3 separate regions of the Homo sapiens genome follow, and all the other regions are linked to region 3. Evidence: fine-mapped expression QTL. A gene starts in region 3. Each other region holds a variant in brackets. All regions are shown on one strand. Distances are from middle to middle.

Evidence for each region.
Region 1: its variant is fine-mapped to the expression of ZNF770 in whole blood (TOPMed, PIP 0.96).
Region 2: its variant is fine-mapped to the expression of ZNF770 in nasal epithelium (TOPMed, PIP above 0.99).

Annotation. Positions count from the first base shown.
Region 1 is chr15:35,030,017-35,034,258 of GRCh38, reverse strand. No RefSeq gene overlaps it. Among named protein-coding and RNA genes, the nearest start is that of ZNF770, 44 kb to the right of the region's middle. The variant G/A (reference allele first, on the strand shown) is at 2,423.
Region 2 is chr15:35,057,435-35,061,676 of GRCh38, reverse strand. No RefSeq gene overlaps it. Among named protein-coding and RNA genes, the nearest start is that of NANOGP8, 26 kb to the left of the region's middle. The variant C/A (reference allele first, on the strand shown) is at 1,817.
Region 3 is chr15:34,986,463-34,990,704 of GRCh38, reverse strand. ZNF770 (zinc finger protein 770) reads left to right here and starts at 2,418. Exons shown (of 3, transcript NM_014106.4): 1 at 2,418-2,589; 2 at 3,032-3,148. It overlaps LOC105370764 (a long non-coding RNA gene), which reads right to left and starts at 2,347. Exons shown (of 5, transcript NR_188212.1): 1 at 2,221-2,347; 2 at 895-1,020. RefSeq lists enhancers at 2,234-2,323, 3,730-3,779, 3,860-3,919.

The DNA of each region.
Region 1 (4,242 bases), 44 kb before region 3:
ATTTGGTCAATGCAAAACTGAATCTTTTTCTTTTTTTTTTTTTTTTTTTTTTTGAGACAGAGTCTTGCTCTGTTGCCCAGGCTGGAGTGTGCAGTGGCACGATCTCAGCTCACTGCAAGCTCTGCCTCTCGGGTTCACACCATTCTCCTGCCTCAGCCTCCCAAGTAGCTGAGACTACATGTGCCCACCACCACACCTGGCTAATTTTTTGTGTTTTTAGTAGAGACGGGGTTTCACCATGTTAGCCAGGATGGTCTCCATCTCCTGACCTTGTGATCCACCCACCTTGGCCTCCCAAAGTGCTGGGATTACAGGCGTGAGCCACCGCGCCCAGCCCAAAACTGTATCTGTCCGTGAATTATACATATATATATTTTAAAGAATGAGTCAGTAAGGGAGTGGCTTTTTTCTGCACCCAGGAAAATGTGTCCATCTTCTTGTGATTAACATGCGGCCGAGTGGAATTGCCTAGAGTGTTTCATTAGCAACACATACAGTAATGTTTCAACACCACAGGGCTAATTGCCTGTCTAATTCAACTGCTTCAGGGAAATCTTGTTTTCTTCCTAAGCAAACCTGAAGATGAATAATAAAAATATTAATATTAATTTCTAAAATTAAAAATATCTATTTATTGACATTAGGGTAATGATTGTCTGATAGCCATAACTTCTTCCATACCTCTCAGTAAATGCCAAATCTTACCTCAGTAGCCTGTTTTTTTCAAATGTTCCTCTAATAAGGAATAGACTCACACTAAATCTTTTTTTTTTTTTTTTTTTTTTGCGATGGAATTTCGCTCTTGTTGCCCAGGCTGGAGTGCAATGGCAAGATCTTGGCTTGCTGCAACCTCTGCCTCCTGGGTTCAAACGATTCTCCTGCCTCAGCCTCCCAAGTAACTGGGATTACAGGCATGCACCACCATGCCTGGCTAATTTTGTATTTTTAGTAGAGACAGGACTTCTCCATGTTGGTCAGGTTGGTCTCCAACTCCTGACCTCAAGTGATCTGCCCGCCTCCGCCTCCCAAAGTGCTGGGATTACAGAGGTCAGCCACCATGCCTGGCCTAAATCTCTTATCTAATAATAATAAAACCTAACTTTTGTTGAGCAATTAATATGTACTTTCCCAAACACATGTGTATAGTATCTCATCTAATCCTCACTACAACTCTGTGAGGTAGGTACTGTCAATAATTCATTCTACAGATGAGTAGATTGAGACACAAAGTGGCTAAATGACAGCTTGAGGTTACGTAACCAATAAAAAAATGGAGATGGAGAATATATTAAAAGCCAGATAGAGAGATGACTGTCACTTTGCAAGGAAGAAAAGCTTAGTCTTATAAAGCAAACAGAAAATGAAAGAGCTTCCTTTCTGCCATATGAAGACTATAATGAATTTTTTCCTGAAAAATTATTTTAGAAAGCAGGAGTTGCACCAAAACATTATATGTACTAAATTTGGAGAGGAGGGGAATTCCTTCAGGCAGTGACCTTTATTACTAAGGCTTGATTTGGAAGCCAACTTTTATAACTCAGTTAAAAACTGCTAAACCCAAGCACTTATATAAAAGAAATGCTGACATGACCTTAATTCCAGAGGTGCAAAGGGTATAATTGAATTTAAGAACAATGCATCTTACACATTAAGTCATTAAATAGATTGTAATAACCTGACACATTTGGTAAGTACTACATGAAAGTGATTTACAATGATATGCAAGTAAAATGAGCTTGCACTATTAGCTACTGTATTTTAGGTTGTGTTTGCCAAATATAACATTAAATTATAATACAGTCATTTAGAAAATGTTATGGTAGTATATCTAAAATGTTCCTGGACATGACGCCAACATAGAGAGAGGGGCTGTTAGAATCTACAGAATATTGCCAAATGCTTATGTATTCAGATAGCTTATATTTACAGTTTTAAGAATTAAACCTAATCAGAAATACACATCTTTTTGACCCAAATTTCTGGAGTTCCTCAGGTGACATGGTACGTCCGGTTGAAGAGTGTATATAAGGATGCCAAGTAAATGCCAAAACTGGAACATTCTTCCACACAGTTATATACTTGGCACTAGAGAAAAAACATCCAGATGTTTGGCATTATACAACTAAATGCCTAAATCCAAGTGAAATCATGAGTTAAACACACAGTCATGGAATTTAATCAATGTAGTCATCCAGTTGGGTTTAATTCTAGCTCAAACAAAATAAAACAAAGCCAAAATTCTTCTCTTCATTTCCTTTTTTTTTTTTTTTTTTTTTTTTTTTTTTGAGACAGAGTCTCACTTTTTCGCCCAGGCCGGAGTGCAGTGGCTCTATCTCGGCTCACTGAAAGCTCTGCCTCCCGGGTTCATGCCATTCTCCTGCCTCAGCCTCCCAAGTAGCTGGGATTACAGGCGCCTGCCACC[G/A]TGCCCGGCTAATTTTTTGTATTTTTAGTAGAGACGGGGTTTCACCACATTAGCCAGGATGGTCTTGATCTCCTGAACTCGTTCTTTTCATTTTCAAGGGCAGGGCTGAAGACCTGGATTTTCTATTTATATTGTCTCTGTATTTAATCTGACTGCTTATAGGATCAGTAGTGAAGTGAAATGCACTAATCATTTCAGTGCAACAGAAAATCCACTAGTGGAAAATGCGTTAGCCCTCAGAATTCCAACACTTATTTTGACTGGACCTCCTGCTTGTTTTATTTCCCTATGTAAATGCTAATATAGCAAATGCGAGTTAATACATAAATAAGAATACATCTAACAGCTTTTCCAGGTAAGAGCTGGTCACAATAATTGCAAATATATTCAAATGTTTTATTTTAGGTTTATGTGTAATCAGTGAGCTATGGATGTGAATATGTGCATATATGTTAAAACATAGATAACTCAGTGACCTAAAAATTGCAAATTTCAAAAAAATCACTGCATAGTAAAATAGATTTTTAAAAATCAAGGGCTTAAATTGAATATGTGACTCAATTAGTGTAGTAGATCATGGCAAAATGGCTCCTCTTTTTCCTACTCCTTACAATGTGTATATGCAGCTCTTCCCATCAAGATGTGAAATTCATTAGTCCTCATGTCCACCCCTTGAATCAGGCTGTCTTGTAGATTGCTTTGGTCACTACAATGTGGGGGACATGATGGGATCCCATTCATAGCCAAGGCCTCAAGAGGTGTTATACGCACTCTCTCACTTCCTTCTCTTCCTTTGCCATGAGAACAGCTCTGGGCTACCTGCTAAAGAATGAGAGACCACATGAAAGAGGGCCAAATCATCCCAGCTGGGGCCATCCTAGACCAGCCAGCACCAGCCCACCCCCCGAGCTGATCACAGAAACATAAGCAAGACCAACTAAGTATATCTGAGCCTGATGCAGACCAGTGAACTCATCTGGCTGACTTGTAGGCTTATAAGAGAGAAATAATAAATGGTTGCTTTAAGTCAATAAGTTTAGAGGGTAGTTTCTTATGCCACAGTAGATTACTGATACAATTAGTGTCAGACAATATTTTTATAGCAAAATAATGAAAATATCACAGTTATCTCTAAATATTAATGATCCTTGAATTTACATACATTTAATATTTTGTAATGTACTGTCACAGACTTGGCCTGTAGGCAAGACAGATGTGATTATCCTCATTTTAAAGATGAGATAGGCCGGGCGCAGTGGCTCACGCCTGTAATCCCAGCACTTTGGGAGGTCGAGGCGGGTGGATCACGAGGTCAAGAGATCGAGACCATCCTGGCCAACATGGTGAAACCCCGTCTCTATTAAAAATACAAAAATTAGCTTGGCGTGGTGCCGCGCACCTGTAGTCCCAGCTACTCCGGAGGCTGAGGCAGGAGAATCGCTTGAATCCTGGAGGTGGAGCTTGCAGTGAGCTGAGATCGCGCCACTGCACTCCAGCCTGGCAACAGAGCAAGACTCCGTCTCAAAAAAAAAAAAAGAAAGAAAAGAAAAAAAATCTGCATCCTGGCCGGACGCAGTGGCTCACGCCTGTGATCCCAGCACTTTGGGAGGCTGAGGCGGGCGGATTACGAGATCAGGAGTTCAAGACCAGCCTGGCCAACATGGTGAAACCCCATCTCTCCTAAAAACACAAAAATTAGCCAGGCATGGTGGCGGGTGCCTGTAATCCAAGCTACCTGGGAGACTGAGGCAGTCTCCTGCCTCAATCACTTGAATCCAGGAGGCGGAGGTTTCAGTGAGCCAAGATTGTGCCAGTGCACT
Region 2 (4,242 bases), 71 kb before region 3:
CTGCGCTGAGTCAGTTCCTGGGTGGGGGCCACAAGACAGGATGAGCCAGTTTATCCGTCTGGGTGGTGCCAGCTGATCCGTCAAGTGTAGGGTCTGCAAAGTATGTTAAGCACTGATCTTAGGTTTTACAATAGTGATGTTATCCCCAGGAACAATTTGAGGAGGTTCAGAATCTCCAGCTGCGTGACTCCTAAACCATAATTTCTAATCCTGTAGCTAATTTGCTAGTTCTAAAAAAGCAGTCTCGTCCCCAGGCAGGAAGGGGGTTTGTTTTGCGAAAGGTCTGTTATTGTCTTTGTTTGAAAGCTAAACTGTAAACTAAATTTCTTCCAAAGTTAGTTGGGCCCACGCCCAGGAATGAACAAAGACAGCTTGGAGGTTAGAAGCAAGATGGAGTCAGTTAGATCAGTCATAATTTTCTCATTTATAATTTTTGCAAAGGCGGTTTCAGTAACATCCTTGGACTGGGACTTGAAAGACACACTCGGCCGGGTGCGGTGGCTCATGCCTGTAATCGCAGCGCTTTGGGAGGCCAAGGTGGGCAGATCATGAGGTCAAGAGTTCGAGGCCAGCCTGGCCAACATGGTGAAACCCCGTCTCTACTAAGAATACAAAAATTAGCCAGGCGTGGTGACATGTGCCTGTAGTCTCAGCTACTCGGGAGGCTGAGGCAGGAGAATCGCTTGAACCCGGGGGCAGAGGTTGCAGTGAGTCGAGATCATGCCACTGCACTCCAACCTGGGTGACAGAACAAGACTCCGTCTGGAGAAAAAAAAAAAAAAAACAGAAAGACACACTCATTGATTTTCAGGCAGAAGCATTGGCACTGGAATCATTCTGGTAGGTGGCTACATGTCCTCTTTGCAAATATTCAAGAAATGAGATTCCACATTCTTTCAGCAAACTCTGACAATGTTAAACAAAAATAACCACAAAAGTGGTCATTAGCTGAGCTGAGAGGACGCTTCTAGCCATCAGATTCCTTCTTTTTGTATTCTCCTTCTTTTTGTTACCTTTTTCCTGAATTAATCACTGCATTTCTATGCTTAGATAAGGGCAATGAGGTGTAGTAGAAAGGACAAGGTGTCTGGGGAAGGTCAAAGTCATTTTAAGATTTCAAGGAACAGAATCTACTCAAGCCAGATCAGTGTTCTCAGCTGTGGTCTGAGTTCCTGGTGATTTCCATCCGGTGGGCCTGGGAGAGGGTCCAGGCATCATCTGTAGCTTTTTTTTTTTTTTAATTTTTTAATTTTTTTGAGACAGGGTGTCCCTCTGTGCCCCAGGCAGGAGTGCAGTGGTGTGATCTTGGCTCACTGCAGCATCCACCTCCCTGGCTCAAGCAATCCTCCCGCTTCAGCCTCCCAAGTAACTGGATGTACAAGGATACACCACCACACCCAGCTAATTTTTGTATTTTTTGTAGAGACAGGGTTTGGCCATGTTGCCTAGGCTGGTCTCTGACTCCTGAGCTCAAGCAATCTGCCTGCCTTGGCCTCCCAGAGTGCTGGGATTATAGGCGTGAGCCACTGCACCTGGCCTATCTGTAGCTTTAAATGTTGCACACACACCTGTCCCTCAGTGGCTCCTGGTCTCTCCTTCTCTCTGCCTGTGCTTCATTCCTGCCATAGAGAGCTGATTCCTTGGCTACTATACCATCATGCCTGTGGCTCTGGTTTGTCAGGGCACCAATTCTGGGCCCCAGTCTGCAGAACATTTCAGAACTGCCTCTCAGTTCAAATTTCAGAGCAAATATGCCTGCTCACAGCACAGCAAATACATTGCTTCTTCTCTGATCTTTGTTCAAATATTGGCCCAC[C/A]CCCATTTAGAATACATGACTTTGACCATGATACTTGAACTCTGAGTTCTTGTGTAAAACAGAAATACAAGCCGGGCGCGGTGGCTCACGCCTGTAATCCCAGCACTTTGGGAGGCCAAGGCGGGCGGATCATGAGGTCAGGAGATTGAGACCATCCTGGCTAACAAGGTGAAACTACTAAAATACAAAAAATACCATCTCTACTAAAAATACAAAAAATTAGCCAGGCGTGGTGGCGGGCGCCTGTAGTCCCAGCTACTCGGGAGGCTAAGGCAGGAGAATGGCGTGAACCTGGGAGGCGGAGCTTGCAGTGAGCCAAGATCATGCCACCGCACTCCAGCCTGGGGGACAGAGTGAGACTCCGTCTCAAAAAACAAACAAACAAAAACAAACAGAAATACAAATTTCCACTTCACTGGGCTACTGAAGGATTAAATGCAAATATATATATATATATAAAATAACTATCACAATGCCTGGCACCTACCAGTCAGTTTCTATAGCCTTTCAAACAAAGTGGCAAGGCTAAGAGCCCTATGTGCTGTTCGTCTCTTGCACTGACAACCCCACCTCTGAAAAGTCTGCACAGACAGCCTCAGTGCAGTCAAATAAGGCTTGTTGCTTTTCCTTTTCCTCATATTTGCCAAGAGCCATTTTCATAACTCTTTAGTACAGAAATAAGAAGGAAAACTGCTGAAACTCGAAGTGGTTTGACTTACTTTTGTTAGTCTCTAGTTGAGAAGAGAATAAGACTAAAGACCAAAATGAAATTTTTGCTTTGGGCGTGTGGGCTTAATTCATCTGTGCTATCACTCTCGTGGCCCTGAGAAATAGGGGCTGCTCTAAGTAGGCACATGGTAACCACCTACTGATCTGTTTTTGTTAAAGTGTGTTCTGTATTTTCATTTGTACTTGTTTTAAATTTTGTGAGTCTTCTGGGAGTAGACAAAGATTAAACATGGGTAGCAGGTTTTCTTTCTTTCCCTTCTGTCTTCTGACGTGTTTCCTATTTCTTTGTTGGGTAGAATTAGCGTGTTTCCTTTGTTTTTAATAGTTCCTTAAACTTTCAGTCCTACTCAGCCCTATTTTAAGCTACTTTGTCTTTTTGTTTTTCGCTTTTGGTCAGTGGAGGGACTCTATAGTTTGTCAGGATGTGCCTCTGTACGATGAAAACTAGAGAGAAAATTCTGACAAGTAGAGTTTTTTCTTTGATTAGCTTTCTCATGTGGAGTCAAGTCCTCTGCTTGCCTCACCAGGACAGGTGGTGAAGAAGCTTTTCAGATCTTTTTTTCTTCTAGGAAAGCTTGCACATCTGGAGCACAGCCCTCCTTTCTTATTTTTTGCTATGTTGTTCAAAGCTTTTTAAGAAAAAAAAACATAAACAGCAAAGAAAAAAATTGGTTTTTCATACCAAGTTGGCTTTTATTGGATGCCCTCAACTGCAGAGACATATTTAAAGGGCAGCTGGCCACCTTCTTTTGAGGTCAGACAGCTGACTCTTAATCATATTGACAATTTCTGGCTGGGAAGAAACATCTAAAAAACGTATTATGAAACATAAAAGTGGAGGCAGCTCTTTACCTTGCCACTTCCCCCTCCAGTCTCTACAGGAGTTCCTCCAAACAAAGCTCACGTTCCAAGAGTGGCAGGCCCACTTCTTCTATCTCATTCTCCTTCGCAGCCTTTGAACGACCTCTCTCATCCTCCCATCTCTCACAGCCTCACCTCTCTAGGTATTTGGAACCTTACGCTTTGCAGATGAGGAAAATTTAATGCCTCAATGATAACTTCAAATGGCATTTTAGCCCCTACAGAAATGAATAAATCATCAGATTCACTTTTCATTTGGGAACTGAAAGGGATTATAGCCCACAAGAACTTCAGGATCCTCATTTGGAACCCTGCTTTAGGAAGGCTTTTTTTCTTTTTTTTTTTTTTTTTTTTTGAGACGGAGTTTCTCTCTTGTTGCCCAGGCTGGAGTGCAATGGCACGATCTCGGCTCACTGCAACCTCTGCCTCCCAAGTTCAAGCAATTCTCCTGCCTCAGCCTCCCGAGTAGCTGGGATTACAGGCACCTACCACCATGCCCAGCTAATTTTTGTATTTTTAGTAAAGATGGGGTTTCACCATGCTGGCCAGGCTGGTCTTGAACTCCTTACCTCAGGTGATCTGCCCACCTCGGCCTCCCAAAGTGCTGGGATTACAGACGTGAGCCACCACACCTAGTCAGGAAGGCGTTTTATACAGACATGCCCTGCCCTTGCCCGTGACCTGCCCTTGCCCATGACCTTGAGGACATAGGGCTCTATTTCCACTAGTCAGAAGCCCCTAAGGCGAAGGCTTTCTGAGACAAGAAAAAGTAATTTATGGAACCAGTAATATTTAAGTGATAATAATAGGGGCTTGATTGAACATTTACTCTGTAC
Region 3 (4,242 bases):
CTAGAAACTAATTTAAGGTTCAGGGCCTAACTGCTTCATCTTTATATAATTGGAAGTGAATATTTAGAGCTTGGTACCTGATATGTCTTTTCTTCTTTTTCTTTTTTTGAAACAGAGTCTCGCTCTGTCGCCCAGGCTAGAGTGCAGTGGCACATCTTTTCTATTTTTATTATTATTTATTTAAGACAGAGTCTTGCTCTGTCATCCAGGCTGGAGTGCAGTGGCATGAACACGGCTCACTACAGCCTTTAACTCCTGGGCTAGAGCAATCCTCCCACCTCAGCCTCCTGAGTAGCTGGGACTACAGGCACGTGCCACCACGCCCGGCTAATTTTTGTATTTTTAGTAGAGACAGGGTTTCACAATGTTGGCCAGGCTGGTCTCGAACTCCTGACCCATGATCTACCCGCCTCGGCCTCCCTAAGTGCTGGGATTACAGGTGTGAGCCACCGCGCCCAGCCTAGGTTAAATAACTTCTAAGGACACAACTAGTAAGCTGCAGCATTAAGATACTAATTCAAACGTATGTCATGCACCCCCTTTATTTTTCATTCTCATACTATCTTTTCTTCACCCTGCCACCTCTGCCCTACCATGTTCTGTCCTGCCCCCACATTTTTTATTTATTCATAGTCTACCCACTACTGCTAGTTCAAATTTCACATATTCAATGAAATCTTCCTTGATTACTCTTATTCATGTTAATTTCTCTTTTTTTTCCAGAAGGCTCCTGAGATAGCTCTCACGGTAAATGGGGGAGGTTATGACATGGGGCATGTGGCCTTGGAGAATAGCCTATTCAAGTCCTAACTGCTTTCACACTCAATATATATTCAGACTCTCCATGCAAAGGCCAATTTGTTTTGCAGGTAATGGATAAAGAACGAATCTCACCCTCCAGTGGTCCCCAATTTCAGGTAGTGTTTTCTCATGATATGGATGTATCTCCTAAGGCTGATGTGGCTGATGATGGATGCAATTGTTTGCATTATTTGGCTGAGTTAAGTTTCCCAGGAGTAGCTGCAGAATGGAGCAGATTTACAAGGGTTATCCGGACAAACAGCATCCCCACTTTGGGACTAGCATTTAGGACACCAGAAGTCTTTCCTTTCCCTTCTCCACCCCTGCTTCTGTTGGAAGCAGACTTCAACCCCTCCCAAATCTGACTCCTTCAGGGTTCCTACATGAGAAGCAAAAGCTCATTTCCTATTCGCCATTTCCTCATGCTAACACATCCAAAACAGAGAATTTTTGTTGGCTCAGCTGCTTTAATTTTTTTGGTAGAGGAAAATATATCAACATTAGAAACCATTGATTTTTGTTGCTGATGGTCCTTAGAAAGTAATGCAAAAAGTTGCTTAGAGTTAAAAAAGTATGCCTGATAATCTGCTTTCATTTCCTCCTTTCTCAAGGTGATACAATTACAATCAGAACCTGCAAAAAATCCACAGTAAATTCTTCTCTAATGCCTTTTGCACTTAAAATCTTTAGTAGATACCTTAGCATCTTATTCAGTAATAACATGCCAACTTAGTCTGTAACTAAATATTTGGTCTTCAATTGTGACTACATAAAATGCTGAAATATCTATAACTTGGGAAGCAGCAGTTATAAATGCAGGTCTGGTATTAGACAACCTGTGTTCAAATCGCACCTCTATCGTTTATTAACTGTGTGACATTAAGTTCCTTAACGTCTCTGATAGCCTCATTTTCCTCATCTTAAAATGGGATCCTATCATTTCATAAAGTTGTATTCTATATGAGTAATTAATAATGATAATAGTTCTTTGAAGGCCTACTACACTAGGAATTATGTTGAGCACTTCACACTCATTTTATCTAATTGTGAGAACAGGGCTTCGTACACTGTAGACAACCAAAACATACTGAATGATTGAGGCGGGGCTAATGAGGTCCGCAGCTGGCACGCCATTAGAGGAGTCGCGAGTGGAGCTCAGTCATGTCTGCCCACAAAGCGCCTGCGCTTGACCTCTACGTTATATTTACTTTGGCAATGTACAAAGTGGTGAGGACAGTCCTAGCCCGGAGGGCCCCTAACACATTGTCGTCTTCTTATCCTCGGCCCTCTGCGTTAGAGAGGGCTGCCCCGAATCGGCTTTGAACGCTGACTCGCCCTTTTCCAGTCGGCCCTTGAGCCCACTAGTCAGGGCTACAGCGTTTTCCTAACCGAGGTTCAGAGGTGAGATGGAAAATGTACCCGTCTTTATTCTGTTCTCTCCCCTGCAATGACAGGGTGAATGGCGGTGGGGTTGGGGGCACGTCTCCAGAGTCCCAGTCCGCTCGGGACCCGCGGACCGCCCGGAGGCGACAACGGCCCTGAAATTGGGGGGAGCTTGTTTCCAGCCGGACTGTGTCCCTGGGCGCGCCAGAGCGCCGCGCCTGCGCGCTCAGCCCGTTGCCGCGCCGGCCCTGCGGACGTGCGCGCGCTGCCTTCGCGGCACCTGGGCCTGAGGTGCGTGCCTCCCGGGCCCTCGCCAGCTCCAGATGCGTGAGGAGGACTTCAGAAACCCGACTGAGAAGTGGAGCGACCCCCAGGGAGGGTCGGACCTGCCTCAATACCGCCAAGGTGCCTGGGGACCCAAGAACGGGGGCTCCACAACCTCAGTTCCTGAGCTCCTTTTGCTTTCTCACTTCCCCACCTATTGAGTGCGTCTCACGCGGAGCAGAAATTTGAGAGGAAGGCGTAGAGGGATTTTTTTTTGTTGTTGCTGTGGGTTGTATCACATGTGGCGTTTTCATCCTGGCTGCAGCCAAAGCAGTTTTTACCCTTACCCTTCCTTTCCTGGCGTGGGATTTTGTGGTTTCTGGACTCGGCTCGACCATTACGTGCTTATTATTGGTTGTGGGCCTTTAGAACGAGGACTGTGTGTCAGTGTCCTTTGTCCAGTGTAGTCCACTGGGAGGGAGAGGTGAGGGTTCAAGGCCAAGAGAATGGGCCCGGGGCGAGTGGGGCAGAAGCAGCCGCCGGAGATTATTCCCCAACTGAAAGTTGTGTGTGTTTCTCTTAGGTCTTTCATTTCTTGTTCGCTTACTTTCGTGAAATCCTCACATCGTTTTAATGGTACTAGTCAAGACAAGAAAATCAACAGGCTTTCAGCCTTGAGGCAACATTGGATATTATTGAGGTCAGTTTTTACAGTTTTTACAGTCTTCACGTAGAGTATCTTGTTCTTGTCAGGATAAATTCTGGATTGAACCACTGAGCAGATCTACTATTCTTTTATTTCAGTTTAAGATAAGAAAAATTACAGTCTTTTTTATTTTTATGTTATCAACAAAAATCGGTTGAAATGGGATTTGGAGCTCCATGAGTGCGTGAGGTGAGGATCCCTAACCTGACTCTCATAAACAGGAGATAGGATCACCACTTGCCACTAATGGTTCTAACAATCTAGGGCTCCCAGTAAGTGCTTTTCCACGTGGTGGGAGGCAAGTGACAACAGTTATCCAATCTTAGTGCTAACAATGGATGATTAACCGTAGCTCCTTTTTGGTACAGGAGCTGTAGGTAGCCAATCCCTGTTTTAATCAGAGGTAGTTGTGGTGTGTGATTTTTTTCTTTTAGGCGTGTTCCACGAAAGCATTTATTAAAGGGAAGAAGAAACATACAAAAGGAATTGAATCTGGCTTTATACCAAAATCCTGTGTGATCATTCAGTCCTGACATTGGACAATTACCAGGCTTTGCCTGACTGGCCTCAAGGGCCAAGCTGTCCTCCCACACCATACTCGATATGGGCCGGTGCATTGCAGTTTTCTGGAGGGGGTTGCAGTCAAGGACTTGCCCTGCCCCTCCTGCTAGATATGCAAATCCCATAACTTCTTTCCTAGCCTGGGTACCTCCATTTGGAGGCCCTCCTAGGAAGGACCGTGGCTAAGACACTTTTCTCCATTTTTGACCCAGCTTCTTTCACTCCTAGACCTTCCCCTCCCTTTCCTATTCTGAAGTTCCATAAGAGGCAGGAGATTTTTGTTAGGGGCTCCTTTCAGTGAGAGGATTACCTCATATGCACTGCATCAACTGACCCTCACCCAGTGTCCTTGTATTTAGTAGACCACTGGGGAGCCAGTGCCTCTTTTTACCACTTGCTTGCACTGTCACAGTAAGTGAATAAAGGCTTGATTACTTTTGGTTTGACTCATTGTCCTGATTGACTACCTTGGCACCTAATTGCTGCCAAGTTCTTTGCAGTTCACTGGATTCATGACTTAATTTTAA